Homo sapiens: one gene and its partners. The protein of the gene in region 1 interacts with the protein of each later gene in a biochemical or structural test. Each region holds a gene or a part of one and is shown on either strand. Other genes may lie near its edges.

Region 1 (5,391 bases):
GCCCAGGTAGCGTTTGCAATCCAGCCCCACGCTGTCCTCCATGTCCTTGCTGATCCTGGCAATGTCCTCTTGGGATATGCTGTGCTCCGAGGTGCCTGTGATGGCCGTGGTGGTCTCTCCCCAGTTGTCATCCTGGTGGGGAGAAGACAGTGAGGATGACATGACACAGGTCATTTGTAAAAGCTACAAAGGGCAGTGAACATGCAGGGCCCGCTGCATCTACCCAGCCCTATTCACAAAGGCTTCCAGAAAATGAAAGCTTAACTCTTTAAATATTAGAACTTCTTAACTCAAACGATTTTCATTGAAATTTTCAAAATGTATGAGGTATTTACCTTTTCAAACAGAGAAAACATAATGTGATCTTTCTGTCTGTTTGGCTGATTCATTGACATAACATTGATTATCATCCCCTGGGTTGAAAAGCCTTGAGCAGCTCTGAGGGCCTGGAGCTGTTTGCCCTGCAATGCGCAACCCAGGTATTAGACTAATCTTGTGAGAGCTCATCTATAGAGATAAACCTCCTGCATCTTCTTTCCAATTCACGCTGGGTTATAAAGGCTTACGAAGTCCAACTTTTGGAGGTGGGAGTATTACTACACCCTCTAGCAGCCCAGAAGAGCAAAGGGCGTAGCAAGGGAACTTACACCACTACACAAACCCAAGCTTACCTGTAGCTAGGACCCACATTTTAAAATCTCTTTATGGACTGGGGCGCGGTGGCTCACACCTGTAATCCCCGTACTTTGGAAGGCCGAGGCGGACGGATCAGGAGGTCAGGAGATCAAGAACATCCTGGCCAACATGGTGAAACCCCGTCTCTACTAAAAATACAAAAATTAGCAAGGCGTGGTGGCACATGCCTGTAATCCCAGCTACTCAGGAGGCTGAGGCAGGAGAATCGCTTGAACCCGGGAGTCGGAGGTTGCAGTGAGCTGAGATCGTGCCACTGTACTCCAGCCTGGGCTACAGAGTGAGACTCCGTCTCAAAAAAAAAAAAAAAAAATCTCCTTATGATGTTCACAAGATCCACTTAACAAGCATCAGTGTCAAGCACTCTTTAACAATATTTCTCATGGACCAAGCTAAGCAAATCCAGGAATCCGTGTATGGCCAGATTGGCTTAAAAATTCTTTCTAAAACATGTTTTCACGAGGAACTAAACATCAAGGGCATAGAAACAACCAGGATTATTAAAATGTTATCTTTTACTTTCTAGCTTCCTCTCTTTTTAAACTTCTAGGCCGTTGCTAGTTAAAGCAATTAGTCTATTCACTTAGCAAAACCCAGTTGATAGAATTTTAAAGGATTTTGTTGTTTAAAAACAACTGGCAACAATAATGAAGCAATAAGAGCAAGGCGCTGAAAAGACACAGGAGGCCAAAGAGGTTTCTGCCTCTGAAATTTGTATGTATCCTTTCACTCGGAAAGAAAACAGTCAGATGCAGTGGCAAAGGGGGTGAAATTAGGACACCAACTTAGAAAAAGCTAGTTTCAGTTAGTAGCTAAATCAGCAAGACAGACATCGCTCATCATCAAATAACTCCGAATCTAGTAATGACCAAAAAAACCATGATTTATGAAATGTATGGGCTATGGTAAGAAGCGGTGGTGGTGAAGGTCTCAATCCCATAAACTAATAATCCTTCAACTTGCAAAGTCAGAAGTATCACCTACAGTGAGAGAAATTCCTATTTCAGACGATGGCCAGAAGCAGCCAGGACTCTCCAACACTGCTGGTGGAAGTGGACCGTGGTACAGTGCCTCTGGAAAACCACTCTGGCGGTTTCATATAAATCTAAATATACACTTAGCTATATGGCCCAGCAATTCCACTCTCAGGTTTTATCCAAAAATTAATAAAAATATACATCCAGCCAGGCACGGTGGCTCACGCCTGTAATCCTAGCACTTTGGGAGGCCAAGGCAGGCAAATCACCTGAGGTCAGGAGTTCGAGACCAGCCTGGCCAACATGGTGAAAGCCCATCTCTACTGAAAATACAAAAATTAGCTGGGCGTGGTGGTGCGTGCCTGTAATCCCGGCTATTCGGGAGGCTGAGGCAGGAGAATCGCTTGAACCCGGGAGGTAGAGGCTGCAGTGAGGTGATATCATGCCGCTGCACTCCAGCCTGGGCGACAGAACAAGACTCTGCCTCAAAAAACAAACAAACAACAACAAAAAAAACCCAAATGTCCATCCACTAGGAGAATGGATAACAAATTGTGGTAGACTGATACAATGGAATACTACTCAGCAAAAATAAAAAGAATAAGCTGTTGAAACATACCAAAACATGGATAAATCTCAAAATCATTATGCTAAGCAGGGCGGGTGGGTGGGGGCAGGAGATGGACCATATGATTCTAATTATACTAAATTCAAAAACAGGCAAAATTGATCTACAGTGATAGAAATCAACACAGTGGTTGCCTTGGAGAGGTGAGGGTGGGGCAGAGATTGACTAGAAAGGGCATGAGAGAATTTCCTGGGGTGCACATGTATGCCTAAAACATGTAGATACACAAAGGATCCTGTTAAGCTTCAGGTTCTTAGAAGAAAAAGCACCTAAGATGCTTTCATCAAAACCCCTAGATTTTCAATAAAGAAATTGAGGCCTACAAAGGCTGTGACTGCTCAAGGTAACAGAGCTACTAAAAAATACAGCCTCCAAACACCCATCTCAATGCTTTTCACACCAGATCATCCTGGGGCAACACCAAGAGCTTCTCAAAGTGTTCTCAGCTACGAGGTGCAGAGGAGATGCAGAGAAAGAAGAGCCTTTGCTGTAGGCCACTGGCACCTCTGAACCCACATCCAGGAGGAAACTGACCCCTTCAAGTACTCCAGGGTGATCCAATCCTAAGACTGGCCCCATCCGACCATCAGCCATCCCAGAGCCAAGGCAGGCAGCACTAAAGGCATTTGCTCATTGCTCAATGAATCCCACGTTCAACCCACAATTGTAGTTTTGTGTCCCAAGAACACCTTGTGTACTCTGAGGAATTCCAGTTTCAGTCCACCTATTTGATTATAAATGCTTACCTGTGTGTATGCACAGGTATGTACAGATGTATGCTTATCTATAGTCCTATATCTATCTTTACAGCTGTGTATCATACACCACTTTGTTTATGAGGGGCAAGGCTGGACATGTGTATATATACTTCAGGATGTGCAGAGGGTATGCAGACATGTTTCTGTGTATAGCTCAGATGTTTATTTAAATCAGGTGGGCTGCCAGACAGTTGGAACCTGGAGAAGAACCCACTCAATGGTTCAAAAAAATTAATAAAGTATCAGTATTTCAAAAATACTGTAAAGTTAGGATTCCACATAAAATCCTGATTTGCAGCTTTTCTCAAACAATGAATCCCTGCATTCCTGAGCAACAGTAGGTGTCTGGAGCTGCGGAGCTGCTGTTTCCTTTACAGAGGAAATGCATTCTCCAGTTAGCCATAGGCTCCTTCACACCACACTACAGCACTGACACTGAGGCACTGCACAGATTGCTGTTAACCCAAAGCTAGGTTAATATATTTTTGCCCCCTCTTTTCGACCCAGGGCCTCCTTAATTAACTTACGTTTCTCTACCAGGCATCTGAGCGTGCGGCCTCTCAATTCCTGCATAGCTCTAGTAGTAATGGTCAGTCTGGGCTGCCCCATGTTTTTTAAACTTCTTAGGTTTTCTGAGTTTCCTTCTCCCCCTTATACTGTTCCATTTTGAAATGAGTCGTGGGAGACTTCAGCTTTTCCCTTCCCAACCCTGTCGTCAACCTTGCTGGCTACTTTTCCACACCATGTAAAGCAGGCCAACCAATCATACTTCAGAAGAATCCCCACGCTACCAAAGGGCAGGACAGGCTGTCCTTAGACCAACAAGAGACCATGGGACATAGATAAACTAATTAGCATGCTAGAAAAATAAAGACAAAAATCCAAGAGAACCTAAGGAAAACATTTACAGACAGGAGTCTTGGCCAAGTGGCAGTGTGCTTACAGACCACCTTTGATCCTTACCTGAACTTCCTCTGTCCGAGTAGAATCATTTCCCAACAGGGGCTCTCCAGTGGGAGGTTGAATGGTGACAGACTTTTCTGACCCTCTGCCGTCTTTATTCCGGGGTGACTTGTGTCTCTCTCTAGTTCTTTCCCTGAAAAACAACAATGAGCTAGCACATTTATGCCATGTTAATTAACTCTCTGGGTTTATCAAAATGTAAGTATCATTTTGAATTTAGGGAAATTCTACATACACACACACACACACACACACACACACACACACAGAGCATCAAAACCCACCCATCTTCACCACACTTCAAGGGGTACACTGATCTTTACTCCCTACTAAATATTTTCTTTCTGCCATCCCAAGACCCAAAACAAAGACTGTCACTCTTCCTCTATCATCAGTGATATTTTCTCAAAGCCTAAAATTGTAATTTTAGGATTTTTGTAGCTAGTTACACTTTATTGTAATAATTAGTGATTTGATTTGGTTATAATTTGCCTTAACCAGTTTTCTAGGGCTTTTAAAATTGGGACAACACTGTAGAATAAGCTTTTTTCTACAAAAAAATATCTATTTTTTTGTAGAATATCCAAAAAAATCTGGGACACATTGTCACCCTTCACCTTTGGACAACAGAAGAAAGGAAATTCAAAGTCAGTACAAAGAATTGTTTACTTCTCATTCTTACAGGTTCAAAACTAAGTCATTCCCATAGGTTCTAGTTGAACTTGAAGACACCCATAGAAACAAACAAGCTAGGAAAAAAGGCCAAAGACACCAAGAGGGGTGGAGGGTGTGTGGGTGGATGTGTGTGTGTTTGTGTGTGTGTGTGTGTGTACATGGGGAGGGTTTCAGACCTCCTGAGGAAAGCAGGCTGCTGCATCATTTTACCCCACAGGAACTTCCTGGGTGGTCTTCCAGCGTGATTGTAAGAACCCTGCCTGGGGGTCACTCATGAAATTCCAAAATGAACCAATCACTGGCCAAGCCAAGGTCACAACCTGGGCAATAACCACTTATGGGAACTGGCACTCCCCCTCCAGCTGCCAACAGGAAACCCAGAATCCCCCACCTAAGGAGTCCCTCAAGGGTCAGTGAGTTCCCTCAGCCTCCTGCCCCCACAGCCACCTTGACATCAGCCCTCCTTCCTACAACCACTTGCCGTCATTCCCAAGGTCTCCCAGGCAGGACAGAAGCAGATTTTGGAGACAAACAGATCTTGGATCTGCCCTACCAGATGTGTGATCTTGCACAAGTTATTCAATCTCTGAAAACCTTGGTTTCTTTATGTATGAAATGGTGACAATGACAACACCACATAATGTAAGTAGTGCTCAGTACAAGGATGTGGAGTAAGTGCTAATGCACAGTGGCTATG
Region 2 (4,937 bases), on another chromosome or scaffold:
GGTCTTTATTCAGGCCCAAAGAGAGAAGAAAGAAGTAGACTAAGATAAAATGGGTAGTCTGTGTATTCATGTAGTGAATATATTCAAGACATAAATATGAGACAGAAAGGTCACTTCTGCAACAAACTAAGTCTGATCAGAGTTAAGTTAGCTTCCCTCTCTGAGCCTTTATTTTTCTCATCTCTAAGACAGATTCATCCTAGAAGCTCTCTGGTCCTTTTTAGCTTCAATGTTCTATGATTGGTTCTCATTTAATTGATGCACCAACTGAAACACTCACTAATCATACATTTTGCTGGAGGTTGATCAATCCTTAGCAAATCAGGAAGAAATGAATGTTCCACTTACTTCGTGCAGAAGCTCAGGAAGCTGGGCTCTAAAGGCCCAAGTTTTTGTTGTTGTTGTTGTTGTTGTTGTTTTGCCTGAAGCAATGTATGTAATTTAATAATTTAAATAGTGTTTAATTAAATAGTGTCTTGTTTAAATGCTATATAACATTTTCAACTGCGGCTGCACACCAGAATCACTCAATGAACTTTATTTTACTGCTGCTTGAGTCCCACCCTCAGAGGTTCCTTTTAATTGATCTGTGTGCAGCCTGGGCATGGGGACGTTTATAAGCTCTCCAGATGATTCTAACCTGAGCAAAGGGAATGATGACTGGCATAGAGCAATGAGTCTCAAACTTTAGCATGAATCAGTCACCTGGAAGGATTACAAAAACACAGATTGTGAGATGCCACGCTCAGAGTTTTTGATTCACTAGGTCTGGAACTTCTTTTTTCTCTTCTGGGAACTTGCTTTTTGTTTTTTGTTTGTTTGTTTTTTTGTTTTTGAGACAAGGTCTCACTCCGTTGCTCAGGCTAGAATGAAGTGGAGCAATCACGGCTCACTGCACCTCAGTCTCCTGGGCTCAAGCAATCCTCCCGTGTAGCTGGGCCTACAGGAATGCACCACTAATTTGTTTGACTTTTAGTAAAGACAGGGTTTCACCACATTGTGCAGGCTGGTCTCAAAACTCCTGAGCTCAAGTGACCCACCTGCCTAGGCCTCCTAGAGTGCTGGGATTACAGGCATGAGCCACCATGCCCAGCCTATGAACTTGCTTTTCTAACAAGTTCCCCAGTAACGCTGATGCTTTTGTCAGGACCTTGCTTTGAGAACCACTTCCAGTGAGAGAATATCATTGATGCTGGCATCTGAAGTCCTGAGTTTAAATCCTGATTCTATTATTACCACCTACATAATCCTAGTCAAGTAATTTTTTCTCTCATTTTTAGTCTCTTTGTGACAATACTTAGATCCCAGAGTTATGAGACATGAAATAATGTACCAATCAGAGTTTGGTACAGTCCCTGGCATAGAACACAATAACAAATATTAACTTCCTTTTTCCATTATACATGGCTAGATGGAACAATTAAGTTAAATCGATAACACATAAGTTGAAACTTCACAGGAAAACAAAGTACAGCTAGTTGAAGCAAACAATATCTTATAATTATACATGTAATACAGAATGATAGAGAAATGTTTTAAGTACTTAAAAATACCTTCGTTCAATTTTCAAAACTTTGAACGTAATAATTTAGGTAGTAGGAACATTAGATGCAATCTATAGAAGAAATATTAGACTCAATCTATGAAGAACATGAATTTTTTTACAACCTATAATGGATCCTGATACCTCATCTATAATTTTAGTTTTCTATAGAATCAATAATATAATTAGTGTACCTGCTTAAAACTGTATTACATTGATCTTCAATGCTACTTAATTTCTGAGAAAACCTAAGTTATAAGAGTACATCAGAATCTCTATTATCAACCAAAGCAAAACTTCTACCAACGACAGAATGGATACTTTTTAAACAAATTTACATATACCAACAAGCAAAAAACTAGAGCTTTCATTCCTGCTTGACATTTTTTTCACTTTGTGTGTCTCAAGGCTCTCTCAGGAATCAGTGTCCAAACCATGAGGTGAATCCTGGGAGGTAAGCAAGCTTGCTGTAGAAGCCGCTGTACATGCCTTCAGGAACAGAAAGGGTACCAGAGGCTGTGCCCTCCTAGTGTGGCTGGTTGGAGTGACAACTAGAATGTTGTCCGTGTTTTTCTGTGGAACCTACAATGAGTCCAGTTGTCTAAGTGAGTCTCAAAGGTATTGAATAGTTGATGTCAAAAGGCACTTTATGTCAGGACTGTTTAAAGCAAGTTTCTCCCTATACCAGTAGTGACCCAGAGGCAAGGTCTTACCGGACCTCTTATTTTCAAAAGCCTTCCCTTTCCAATTGAGCCTGATGCCATTATGTGACATCTTTTTTTCCCTGAATTTCTAAAAGAAAATGTGATGATTACCTGCATATCTTCTTTGTTGCTGCATCGTGTTTTGCATGGTACCCCTTTAATATTGTTTTCAATACTTAGCCTGCTGATATACTTTTAACTTCTCACCTGTTTATGAATTCTCTTAACTAGGCTGTGAGGCCCTTAAGGGTCTTCAACTTGTCCCTTTCCTCCACGTAACTTTCTCAAACGCCCCAGTTCTCAGTAACTTTTCTCTTTTGCTGTCTGTAATATAAACATGACCCCTACTTACACTGTCCTACCTATGTGGCCAATAAGAGTGTTGTCTTCGCAGTTGGAACCCAAAAGCCCTATGGGATGGAGGATATGCACTGTACTTCTTTGTAAAAGTGTCTTGACAAAGCTGATGTCCAATCAACATTTAATTACCAGACTGTCCAAGCTAGAAATGAAATACAGTTGATTGCCTGAGTCCTGATAATCTTGCTAACAAAATTATAAAAGGCCTATAGTATGGCCAATATATTTGGCTAATGGAAATGATTTTCTTAAAGCCAGAAAATTCAGCTACCCATAGTGCTTAAAACCAGCCTTAAAAGAACATGAACAGGATGGTTCCCACCTTATCGAGATCACTGGCATTCCATAGTATCCATTCATTCATATCCTCCTCCTAGGCCGCATGAAACACCTACCACATTTCCCTACCTCCTAAAGCAAACAAAACTCTTTTCCTCCCTCTTGCTGCAAAAAGGTTTATTAAAAGCCGTATGTAGTGTATAAAGCCTTTCAAAAATACTAGCAATCCATGCCTTTCTTTTTTTGAGATGGAGTCTTGCTCTGTAGCCCAGGCTGGAGTGCAGTGGCGTGATCTTGGCTCACTGCAACCTCCGTCTCCCAGGTCCTGGTTCAAACAGTTCTCCTGCCTCAGCCTCCTGAGTAGCTGGAATTACAGGAACGCGCCACCATGTCCAGGTAATTTTTGTATTTTCAGTAGACATGGGGTTTCACCATGTTGGCCAGGCTGGTCTTGAACTCCTGACCTTGTGATCTGCCTGCCTCGGCCTCCCAAAGTGCTGAGATGACAGGTGTGAGCCGCTGCACCCGGCCTCATTTTAACTAAATCTGAAGCCAGAGTTGATTTGATGCCCATCCTGCCAGGGAGGCAGTTCCTTCCCTCAGGTTTGTTAGTAGAAACCAAAAAGTAGCCTGAGAGGGTTCAGGTGCCACCTTGGAGGCACTACCTTATCTTTTGTCCTTTTAGAGTTTTCTTGCTGGGGTGTTTGGCTCCAGCACTATAGCCCTTACCACAATCATTCCACCTGGTTCTTCAATAGGACTCTGAGGTATCAAAAAAGTCACTAGGGCAGCCCAGAGATTGGTACGATTTACCTTTACACCTCAAAGTTTTTTAGATGTGAGCAGCGCTGGATTATGGCAATTTACCTTATAATAACTCACCATAGTTGGCTGTTATAAGAATAAATATTGTTCTTCTAAGATTTTTAATTAGTTGCTTCAGTTATTACATTTTTTTCTATTTTTTTTTTAAATAGAGATGAGGTTTTGCTATGTTGCCCAGGCTGGTCTCCTGGACTCAAGCAATCTCCCACTTCAGGCTACCAAAGTGCTGGGATTTACAGGCATGAGCCACCTCTCCCAGTCTCAGTTATTATTTTAATAAATGAGACTGAACGTCCTCTTATAAGGCTCACTCCCTTGTTCCTACTACATTTGCTCTGTTTAAGTATCTCTTTAAATTCTTCAGTTAAGATCATCCCTTTTATCAGAAACCTAGACACCACAAAGTAGCTTTCTCACCTTTAATTCTCCATAGGGATCACTATTATACTATAATATTTGCATACGTATGTGTATATATGTATTTGCTTTTTTAAAAAAGTAAAAATGCTCTTCTCACTCTTTGTCGATATAGGCACCCAGGTACGTAGTTAGAAATTAAATAAAGGCCACAATAATTTCCCAAGGAAGATCATTAAAAAGAAAAATCCTTTCTTCCTCTAATATCACATAGCTGGCCTTTATGGCATGCCAGCTAAGAAAAAAGGTATTGCCTATGGTGACAGGAAGACTCAATCTTTCTCTCTTTGGGTTGTAGCTGAATTTCTATCAAAAGTCCTAGTAAAATATATAACTCCTCATTTGTTCTAAGCCAAGTCTTTTCTTCAGTTTTCCTTCAAACAATACCTTTACTTTCCCATTAGAATATGAAGAATTGGAGACTGTGAACAGCAAGGTTTGGGGTGGGTATCAGTCACTTCAAATCTGGCTATGCAGAGAGAGGGAAAGACATGGCAGAATAGCAGGGGTGGAGGGTGAGTGAAATGTATCTTCATTGGGAGTATTGAAAGAGAGCAAGTTTTTCAAAGTTGTTGCCGGTATCTCATGAAAGCCCAGGCTGCTACCATGGTGAGGGCAAACACTGGCACCAGCACCATAAATATGGGAATACCACTTGGGTCCCCTTCACCTCGATGTCCTATAGGTCCATTCTGCACCTGTAACTGGAAGGGAAAGAAAAATGTTAACTCTAGTGACTAATGTGTGTTTGCAACTGAAACGCCCAGGTTGATACATCACCTGGGTTTGTAGACTCTAGACCACCCAAA
Region 3 (5,391 bases), on another chromosome or scaffold:
GCCCAAAGTGCTGGCACATTTGTTCATCCTCATTTATCTTAATGTCGCCTGAATAATTTGATCAAATTCCTGTGACTTTGATATGCAGATGAGCTATGAAAATTATGCCAAGTAAAAATGTAAATTCAGCCCAATTTATAATTGTTCAAATTTTACATTCTTTAATCTTTTTCAAGTATCATAAAGCTACAAATGCCAGACATCATAAAAAATTACTTAAAATGGGGAGTGCTTACTATTCACAAACACATCAAGGAATTTTTCTTTAATCAGGTCAAAATAAAGTATTTTCTAACACTGATATATTGAATGATGAAACAGAGTCCTTTGAGGATTAAATGAAGTAGTGGGGAAAATAAAGAGAAAATGGTCAAAATTAATGATTCCCCATAACTCTTTTCTTATTGAGTAATCCAGTAGATTCCTGAGTTGCCAGCCATAGTCATTATATGTCTATTTTGATAAGGCTTTCTTTTAGGCTGGAGGTGCACACAGCACAATTAGCAAAGGGAGATTCTTCTTGCTCACTTCCTTCTTCTCTCCTATTTCCCCCTTTCTACCTAGATGTACATTCACTATGGTCTGAGTCTAATGTAACGGCAGAGACAGACATCTCCCTTGAGCTGAGCTGCAGGAAAAGAGGGATTGTTACTACTAAGAGTGGGGATCTATCTGCACCAAAGGGGGCCACATGTGGCATCTCAGAAAAAGGAACAACCTACACTGTCTCAAAGGTAGTGGCTACAAGTTCTTATGAGAATCCTCTCTGCCCCAGTGTCCTGAGGGAAATAGGACAGAAAAGCAATATCTTTAATGGTCTCAGGAAGAAAATGGGCAGAAAATGAAAGAGAGTTGACAGGAAATGAGGAAAATGAGTTATTTAAAAATATTGCACAGATGTACAATACTGCCCCCAGCAACTCTGTAGATCATTTCCAAGAATCTAGAGAGTATTTGAAACGTTAAAAATGTTTAAAAAAAGCTAGAAAAAGCACACAAAAGCTTCCACATTCTCCCCGAATAAAATACACACGCAAAAAAAAAACATACAACAATGAGATAAATTGAGTTCAATGGAAAAATATGGGTGATATAAAGACAAGATTTTTTTTTTTTAGTTTTTTTTTTGCCACTTTATAGCATGTACTGATTAAATTACATTTTAAAAGTATGGTATTAAAATGTATTTCTTTTCCTGATTTCTCTGGAAATCTGTTTTTTTTTTCTATAGGCAATTAGCTTCCTTCCAGTGTCATGAAGGTTTCTTTAGGATCAAGGGGCTAATGCAGATCATAATTTTGACAGGCAGGACAGCATCCTATGGAGTCAGACAACCATCTTTCATCAAATGTGGAAAGGGAAGTCTCATTTGAAAATTCATCCTTCAGCATTGACTCTTTTGGAGAAAAAGGTCAGAAGTGTAGCCAGATACTCAAATTTTCCACTGGTTCTACCCAGCATATGTATTCCATCAAAGATTAACAGGATCTGGTCTATGTTATTAATTTCTATTATTTCTACAGCCCATTATGGCCACTATGTGGCATAGTTTAAGGAAATGCTTTAGTTCTAAATTAATGAGGTTCTCTAGCAGTTACATGGAAAGGGCAGGGAAACCACATTATAACATAAAAATATCTTCTCTACAATAGAGATGGCAACTTCAATTTATCATAAATTTCACTAATATGCATTTAGCCCCTTTATTATGTTCTTTTTTGAAGAAAATGGGAGCAGCGAGATAACTGGGTTGAGAAATTTCCAGATAATTGGTATAATTTCATATGTATTTAAAAATTCACTCCCACATAGGCAGTGTGGGGGTTTTGTGGGCTTTTTTCCCCACTCCTAAGACCTCAGGTGTGTAACTTTACTCTGCCCCAGGCTATGGCAGACTTTATGAGAACCATTTAGAATGGGCAAGGGCATAAACGAAATATATGCAGAAAGGGTGATCTTTTATAACCACTATATTCAAGTCAGGATTCAGTCTGACACTGAAATACACTTACTCAATGTAATTTATAGATAGTATGTAGTTACTGAGTCTGAAAAATATCATATCAATAACCGAGGAGACAAATGGCGATATAACTAACTTTATTCAAACTACTGACAGATAGATAGACTGGTGACAATGTTTTGTCCCTTCTGCCTTGTGATGGGAGATAAAAAGGATATAAAAGGAAGCCCCAATAGTACTTTTTTTCCATTACCTTTACTCTACTTTCATGACATCTTCTTCCATAAAGATCTAAAAAATTCATTTAGAAGTTATCAGTTTTTGGCTGGACAATTGTTTTGGTCACACTAAACTTGGAAACAATTCATTTACTATACATGGAACCAGATCATGCTATACAAGACATTCTAATTGATAAAGTTATTTTAAAAAGATTTAAGTTGATGACTAGATAGGCTAGTGTTTCTCTCGTGGAGCTTCTTCCAAGATATCTTCATATGCCATTTAAGTATTTTCAGATGGAAACTTAAAGCAAGGATCCACACAGAATTAAAAGGATCCACACAGCCATTTTTCATTTGAGTATTTATTTAAGTAAGTGGCAAATTGAAGGAGAGAATCACAATTCAATTTGGTATGCTTTTCCCCCCTTAAAAGGGATATTTAGCTGCCATTCTATGGAGCAATATAAGGAAGTCTTTAATGTGTAATACTTTTGATAAATTAGGAAAGATCAGTCTTTATTGTATTTTGTATACCTTAATTGCTTTCATATCTATTTTTAAAATTCACTCCCACATAGGCCATCTGGTGGGTTATATGGGGAGAGATAACCGTGATAATGATTTGATAGAGAATAGCAGATAATGAATATAATTCATTCACGAATTTACATTCAGTGAATTCAATGAATATAAAGTTCAGTCTCAAGGCTTTTGATCTCTGTTCTGACCTGAATCTCTGGCCTTGCAACAAGCAGCACGATTCTCTTACACTCATCGTTAGACAGCAAGGCCACTGCTTCTTCTCGATTCTGGACATCTTCCCCATTTATCTAGAAAACAAATGAGAGTGGCACATTAGTTTCCATTTCCACAATGCTGCACACAATAAATGGCAAATATCAGCTCATTTATGGTAAATGTATGGACAATGAAGCTCACACAATGGGCTCATCTTCAGCCCCTCAGCTCAAAGTGCCTTCACTCAATTACGCGCTTACTGTAAGAGCCATATCGATCCGTGAAGGATGGCGGACATCAGAGGAAGCAGTTATGTTCATAAATGTCCAACCTGCGCCCTGGCAACATACATCTAGCAACACAATTAACCAGCTCCTGACAGGTGACGTTCATCTTTCTTCGCTCAGAGTAATGGAAGTGTCACTCTGAGATAATAGTGCTGGGGGAAGAAGGACTGGCAATACCACAACTGAAATCCGTCATCCTGCACGCTTGCCGCGAGCCAATTAGAGAGCTGCAGTATTATCTCTCACCAGGCAATGCTCCCAGGCCACTGCTGATTGCATTTTTATTTAATCATTTCATATTTGCGTGTGGGTCTGACCCAGTTGCCCAAACATCATCGTCAGGATAAATCTCAGTGTTTAACTGATCAAAGTAAAATAACATTCTCATCAATACTCCATTTCCCTTCTAATATCTATCCATTTCCTAAAGTAATACAACTAATGAAATATCTTCAGACTCATCTCTTAAATTTAAAAATTTAAAAAATATTAACATAGAGTAAAATTGAATTTTTAAAATAATGATGAGTGAAAGAAACCAAGCTTGACTAAACTTTAGATTTCATGGAAAAGATTCCAGTGACATTAGAAATATATCTTTTTACTTTTTCTAAGTTCTAAAGAAAAAGTAAATAAGATTTGTAAAGTTTCTTTTTTTAAACTACATTTTCATGTGCAAATATATTTAGCTCTTAATTAATAAAACTTTTTCCTTTGGATATTTAATAATTATTTTCTTTTATTGATTACTCAACTCCATAGAGACAGCAAGATTTTTGATTTATAATTATATGTAATCAAATAATGGGAAAGAAATTCCAATTAAAGAGATCAAGTAATTCTGTCTAAAATAGTATTAATTACTTGAATAAATGAAGCAGATGGAAAATGTAGCAGCACTGACCATTCTTTTTTCAATAATCTAATGTCTTTCACTAAGGACTTCTGCTTAAAAGCATGAAGTAGACTATTGAGGTTTTTCTCCTCATAGGTCTCTGGGTTTCTGGCTGATGCATGAGGACAGACATAATTATCTGAAAACAAGCCCATGAATTTCAACCTTGAACCACAATAAATAATCCTTATTCCTATACTCTTATATGTATTTAGTGCAAGGAAAGCAGGCAATAATAGTAAAAATATATATATATGGGCACAAATTGTATTTTCTTACTCCAATCACTGTCATTTCTCACTTGTATACACAGAAAGGAAATTCAGTGGTTATAAGTTTCACATGCATTCCCTATTTGTTTTTGCAATTCACAAATAAAATTCATCCAATTAGGAAACAGAAGCTACGATTCCACAATGGGAAATAATGACCGGGAAGGATATGTTGCGGTTTGTCATAAATACCTCTGGAAAAGTATGTGTGTACTGACTCCAAGGCCTTTTTTCTCAAATAAAGATAAATTGGCAGTGGTGGATTCCACTATACTTCCCCTACCCTCTATTAAGTGTAGTTTTAAAATAATGACTTTGTAGTATTTACTCTATTTGCACTTTGAGGGCTTATGTCTGTTTCATGGTAATTCTTAGTAATATATTTGCAATGCATTTATTTGTCTGTCAAACATGGACCTGTTTATTCATCTCCTCTCCACTACAGGCACATCTGATCCTAAGAGAATTGAATTGGGTGATCTTACACAGCTTATCTTCATCTTTTCTGTTTGAAATATACTTCTCACTTCTTTTATTCCTGGTCTCCACTTGACTGTACATATATATATATATATAGTCTTTATATATATAACTTAATATATATAATATATATAAAAAATATATATTTCCTCATTCTTCATCTAAATTGCACTTACCATTAATCTAAATACTTATTCATGTTAGTCTAATGCTGCTATTAAGTTTGCTATCTTAAAATGCATATAATAATAGTGCCTTTCTCAGAGGGTCTTTATAAGGATTACATGAGTCGATACAGGTAAAAATCTTAAATAGTGCCTGGTACATAGAATGTCTTCAATGCTGGCACATATTACTGTTGATGCTATTGTTATTGTTGTTATTACTATCATCATTTACATTTTAATCCTTAGTAAAGACAAGACTCTTTCGTGCTAAATAAAGCAAATAAAGTGAAATTTATAGAAGGTTATTAAATGCATAGTAGTAAACATGGTTTTATTTTAAAAGATATCTACCTCATATGTATTTC
Region 4 (5,391 bases), on another chromosome or scaffold:
GTATGAGGTCACCTAGCTTTATAGATTAGAAAAGACTCAATTCAATCAGAAACTCTGTGGGGTCCTAGATATTCCCCAGATTGAATTCAATTGGGAATTTTGTCATGCAGAATTAACAATAGTTTGTCCTTCAGCCTCCAGCTGCCTGGTGCTGTTTCTGGTCCCCTGCCAGTATTTTCCTCCAGACAGCCTTGAGCAGGCTTTGGGAGGAGGAGGGGAAGGAGGAAGGTATGGAACACCCCTCTAGTTAAATAGGAAATTGGGAAATCAGCAGATGTTAGAGGATACTAAAGATCCTCAGAAAAGGCCGAGTGCAGGAATAGCTCACACCTGTAATCTCAGCACCTTGGGAGGCCAAGATGAGAGGATAGCCTGAGCCCAGGAGTTGAAGATCAGCCTGGGCAAACATAGGGACATAGGGAGACCTCATCACTATCAAAAAGAAAAAAAAATAATAATAATACCAGCATGGTGGGGTCCTAGCTACTTGGGGGTTGGGGGAGTGGCAGGGAGGCTGCCGAGACAGGAGGATTGCTCGGGCCTGGGAGGATGAGGCTGCAGTAAGCCAAGATTGCACCACTGCACTCCAGCTGGGCAACAGAGAGACCCTGTCTCAAAAGAAACAAATAAGCAAAAAATAAAAAGATCTTCAGAATATTCCTGGAGCTTTCTTTCCCCATGTGATGTGAAAAATCAAGAACTCTGATGAAAAGAAAAGGCATTATCTGAAACACTCCAAGCCCAAAACAAATGTGTGGGATTGGTTAAGCCCGGAGATCTTTAAAAATTGACATCATTTGGCCAGGCATGGTGGCTCACACCTGTAATCCCAGCACTTTGGGAGGCCAAGGTGGGCAGATCACTTGGGGTCAGGAGTTTGAGACCAGCCGGGCCAAAATACAACAAATTAGCCAGGTGTGGTGATGGGTGCCTGTAATCCCAGCTACTCGGGAGGCTGAGGCAAGAGAATCACTTGAACCCAGGAGGCGGAGGCTGCAGTGAGCTGAGATCGTGCCACTGCACTGCAGCCTGGGTGACAGAGTGAGACTCTGTCTCAATAAATAAATAAATAAATAAATAAATATTAACATTATCCATTCGACAGATACTTATTGGGCATTTTCTTTGTACCAAATACTTTGTACTTGCCAGTGACATAATGGTAAGTAAAGCATGGATACTAATTTTCAAGGAATTCATAGTCTGATGGTTGTATACAGATAAACAAAGAATTATCATCAAATGTAGAAAGCATAATGAAAGCCATCTATACAGGTTTATGAATACACAGAGCAGGAGTACCTATTCAGTGGTGTGCTGGTAAATGTTTAACAAGTGGCTTTGTCGGGGCATGCCTTGATTTATAGCATCCATCAATGTCTCTGGTGTAAATACTCCCACTATGGCCAATTTCAGTCTACCAACTTGATGTCATTGAATGTGGAGTTGCTAAGAGATGTGTGGCACACCATTATAGAGTAGCTCTCCCACATAGATAGAGTAGACTTCAAGAGCACAGAACATAAAATGTAGTAATGATTAGAAAATGATGAATTGTTAGTATTCATTACCTCCGTTTTTAATATCATTTAATTGCAAATTTATATAATTTTAAATGATTGTGTTTACAAGCTAGTTCAAAAAATTCTTTAACATTTAACAATTGGCTCCATAGAAGATGACTTTAACCAATGAAGTCTACTCTTCATTGTGGGCTAGGGCAACAGACTTTCTGCACCATACAAATGAGGGTGAACTCCTTTGCATGAGTAGCTATGTCCATTAGCATTGAAAGAAGACAAGTAACAGAAGAGAAGAGGGAGCAATGAGAAGAGCTGAGATGCTCAGAACATTGCACCGCATACAACCAAAGCAGAAAACTTTATAACCCTGCCTTTCAACTATTTTCTCCATATAATAACCTTCCGCATAAGGGGAGAAGAAAGGGAGAGATCAGTTAGCCCTTAGGTCCCTAAATAGTAAGGACAAAAAATCACATGAAAATTACAATATTCATTTCCATCCCCATGGAACATTCCTTCCAGTCTATGCTGATGTGGACTGCCAAGGAGGGCAGACTTGAAGACTTAACAAAATGATCCACTGGAAATCCTACGTTAGCAGTGGCGCTCATAACTTCATACAGGACTGCAGGCTCAGATTTGCAGGGGTGTTCACACAGTTCTGTGGAATGAGAGCAACTCAGGAGTGGACTCAGCAAATGGTTGAGTCAACTGTCATTTTTAAACTATGTCTTCAAAACTCTCACCAAAATGTATACACACAAATGCGTTATAACCTGTATCAGGCCTCTTTTGATTGCAAATAACAGAAAGACCTGGCTCTAATGGGCTTAGGTGTTAAAGACATTTAATGGCTAACTTAACTGAAGAAGTCTAAGGGAGAGCTCAGAGCTCCCTTAAGGTAGTTCTTGAGCAGGGGCTGAAGTGATGACAGTCAGATATGGTGTCTCTTTCTTTTGGATCCACTGCCATTTTCAGACAGGCTCTGCCCTCAAAGTCACAGGAAGGCTATAGCAGTTTCATAGCCCTTATATCTGCTCAGCTTCTCCCTTCTAGCAGCTGAGTAAAATTCCTGGGCTTGTCTCTGGCTGAAACATATCTAGTAGCATCTCTATGAAGCTGCCAGTACGTTAGGTCCATGGCTCCCAAACTCAGCTAACACAGTAAAGTCACCTGGGGAATGTGTTAAAATGCCAAAGAACAGGCCACACTTCCAGGCAATTAAATCACAATCTCTGGGGTTGGATCCAGGCAACATTATTTTCTTAAGGTTACAAGGTAATTCCAATGGAGAGAAAAATTTAGAAACCCCTGAATTGGGTGCTCATAAAAATAGGAGATTTTAGACTCATCTTCTGATTTACTAAGAAAGTCAAGTTTGATTAATTTCCTTAATGTCCACCTCAAAGTCTTTCTTCCTATGCTTTCCTGTCTCTGTGACAAGAGTGTCCCTCTTGCTCACTCTAGCTGGCTGCCATCTGTCTCGTGGTCTCACACTCACACTGTCTTGCCTGGTTCTAGAGTTCATCCCTCTTCTAGTTTGCATCTTGAAATTTTACCTCCCTACTGGTTCTATCCTTTTAAAAAATGCTCAGATTTCTCCCATCCTATAATAGCCTTCCTTATCCCCCATGACCCCGCCCTCCACCCCCACAGGCTGCTGCCCATCTACAGCCTAACTTTCACCTTCAGACTTCTTAAAAGAGTGGTCTGCCCTTGTTGCCTTTAATGCAGAGAATCCTTATAATCTGGTTTGGACATCAATACCCTGTGAAAACTGTTCTCTCAAAGGTCAGCAATGACCCACTTACAAAACAGAAGGGCTGCTTCTCGCCTCTCCTTCTCTCATCTTTGCTTTGGTTTTTAGATATTACGGTATCCAAACGCTATTTCTCCCACTGTTTTTCTCTCTGCCACCTCTATTAGCTTAAGAAAGCCTTGGGGAAAATGTGTGGGACGTGTATCCTAAACACATTTCTCAGACAATATGTATCAGAAGACTTGAAAGTGAAGATACATGAAGGCAACAATTTAAAGCACAAAATAAATTCTTTAAAGACAATTCAGTATCATGTATTAGACTGAAAACTGGGAAACAAACTAAAGATATATTATCCACATAAGGAAATACTACAGAGACAGTAACAGTTTCCTATGACAAGTGTGTGCTAATGTGCACAAATGGGCAGAATATTAGGAAGAAGATGTAAGACAAAACATGTATTATACATATAATTTCAACTTATTAAAAAGCATAATAATTTGTAAATCAATTTGTTTTCCTCCATTGGTTTCCATTATTATGATGACAACATATCTTTAGTGATATTTAGTTTTACCTTTTCTCCTAATTCATCTGTTTTGAAAATGAATAGAAATTTCCTTAGTACAAATGTAACTTATTGTATTCTTCATATATTCAGCTATTTAATAATGTAGTTGGAATTATTAGTAAGAAGCTCTTTCTCACTTTCTAATACCCCGAGCTTTGCCTGAATTTAGGTGGTCATCATTGACTGAGACATCCAAGACCACTGCTTTTATTGCTTTTTGTAATGGCAAGGTCAAAGTTTCCTTGGTTTGAAGGGTGCAGTAACATCCTTTAAGGAGCTACATGTAATAAATATCTGGGTGCATTTTTTTTTTGGATATATGCGATACTGAAACAAATAATTATTTTAAAAATCTGCAAATAAGATTTTCTTCTGTATATTTAATAAAGCAGCAGTTACTAATTTTAAATTTAACATAATTCTCATGTATATGGGCAAAAAAGTGGTAAGAAACTAAAAGAGAGAAAAAGATGAGTTTCAAACACTGACGGCTTGCCTATCCCTAGAAACTATGTATTTTGCCTCCTCTCAAATAGTGGGAAGTTATCAAATTATATATTTTCCGCCAGAATAAAGTGAATTTACTAATATAAGAATTTCAAATAAATCAACTGTAGTAGAAAATTAAATCATTTTGTTATAGCTAACATGAGTATAAAACAGTTTTCACAAGTAATTTTTAATTTACAGATTAAGAAACTGAAATTTAGTGGGGGAAATTCAGTTTTTTTGTTTGTTTGTTTTTGCCACACAAGTAAAAATAGGAAAGCTAGGAAAGGTTGACATATCTTCTAATTTCTAAGTCTATTCTATTTCCCCTACCATAAGGAATGCTGAGAGATTAGTGTGGTGTTGTCTTGATTAATTTCTCTTTATTATTCTAGATAGGCAGGTCTATGGTTTCTATCCGTTTCTAGAAGAGAAAAAAAATGGCAAAAATGAAACACTGGGGTTCCTCCTGTCCTCCACTTGTGATCTTAGGAATGATTCTTAACTTCTCTGAACCTCTTCTTTTTCATCTGTATGGTGGGGATAATGACGATAATATTGCAAGATTTAAATGAGTTAGTACATGTAAAATGTTTAGAATAGTACCTGGCAGAAAGTAAGTGCTCAATAAATGTTAGCTATCCTTATTTCCATTCTTCCTCCTAAACATTTCCCAAAAGTATATAAGTTAATCGATTAGAATGCCTATCCTACATTGGCCCTCCTTTTCCCAGTAATGAACCAGATATTTCTTCCTAACCTGCTACAATCATATAAGAAGGGTGTAGACTCCTTCTTGTTTATATGGGGTCATACAAGGCATAGCCAAAATTTCCTCTGGAGGATGGGTACCTCCTGGAACGAGGTAAAGTATTTCTAGCATCCAATTCCCATTTGGAAGACAGGGGAGAAATAAATGCGCCATTATGATAATTCTAACTAGTTATATAAACGAAAAGCTTCAGTCCAGTGGAGAGTAAAGCGGTCCAAGCCACTGTTCAATGTAAACTCCCTCAAAGCATGGGCTAGAAGCACAGCAAGAAATC

The links.
Region 2: the proteins of VANGL1 (region 1) and SYNJ2BP interact in a test that uses a peptide from one of them, tested with the Homo sapiens proteins (one large-scale study listed by IntAct).
Region 3: the proteins of VANGL1 (region 1) and PDZRN4 interact in a test that uses a peptide from one of them, tested with the Homo sapiens proteins (one large-scale study listed by IntAct).
Region 4: the proteins of VANGL1 (region 1) and GRIP1 interact in a test that uses a peptide from one of them, tested with the Homo sapiens proteins (one large-scale study listed by IntAct).

What each region holds. Positions count from the first base shown.
Region 1 is NC_000001.11:115,658,402-115,663,792, reverse strand, and holds part of VANGL1 (vang-like protein 1), read right to left. Parts: intron 4,153-5,391; coding exon 4,020-4,152; intron 133-4,019; coding exon 1-132.
Region 2 is NC_000014.9:70,368,300-70,373,236, forward strand, and holds part of SYNJ2BP (synaptojanin-2-binding protein), read right to left. Parts: intron 4,833-4,937; coding exon 4,692-4,832; 3' UTR 1-4,691. Other genes in the region: SYNJ2BP-COX16 protein, read right to left, coding at 4,734-4,832. UniProt on the Homo sapiens protein: Regulates endocytosis of activin type 2 receptor kinases through the Ral/RALBP1-dependent pathway and may be involved in suppression of activin-induced signal transduction.
Region 3 is NC_000012.12:41,561,174-41,566,564, reverse strand, and holds part of PDZRN4 (PDZ domain-containing RING finger protein 4), read right to left. Parts: intron 3,018-5,391; coding exon 2,916-3,017; intron 735-2,915; exon of another isoform or gene 259-734; intron 1-258.
Region 4 is NC_000012.12:66,668,332-66,673,722, forward strand, and holds part of GRIP1 (glutamate receptor-interacting protein 1), read right to left. Parts: intron 1-5,391. UniProt on the Homo sapiens protein: May play a role as a localized scaffold for the assembly of a multiprotein signaling complex and as mediator of the trafficking of its binding partners at specific subcellular location in neurons.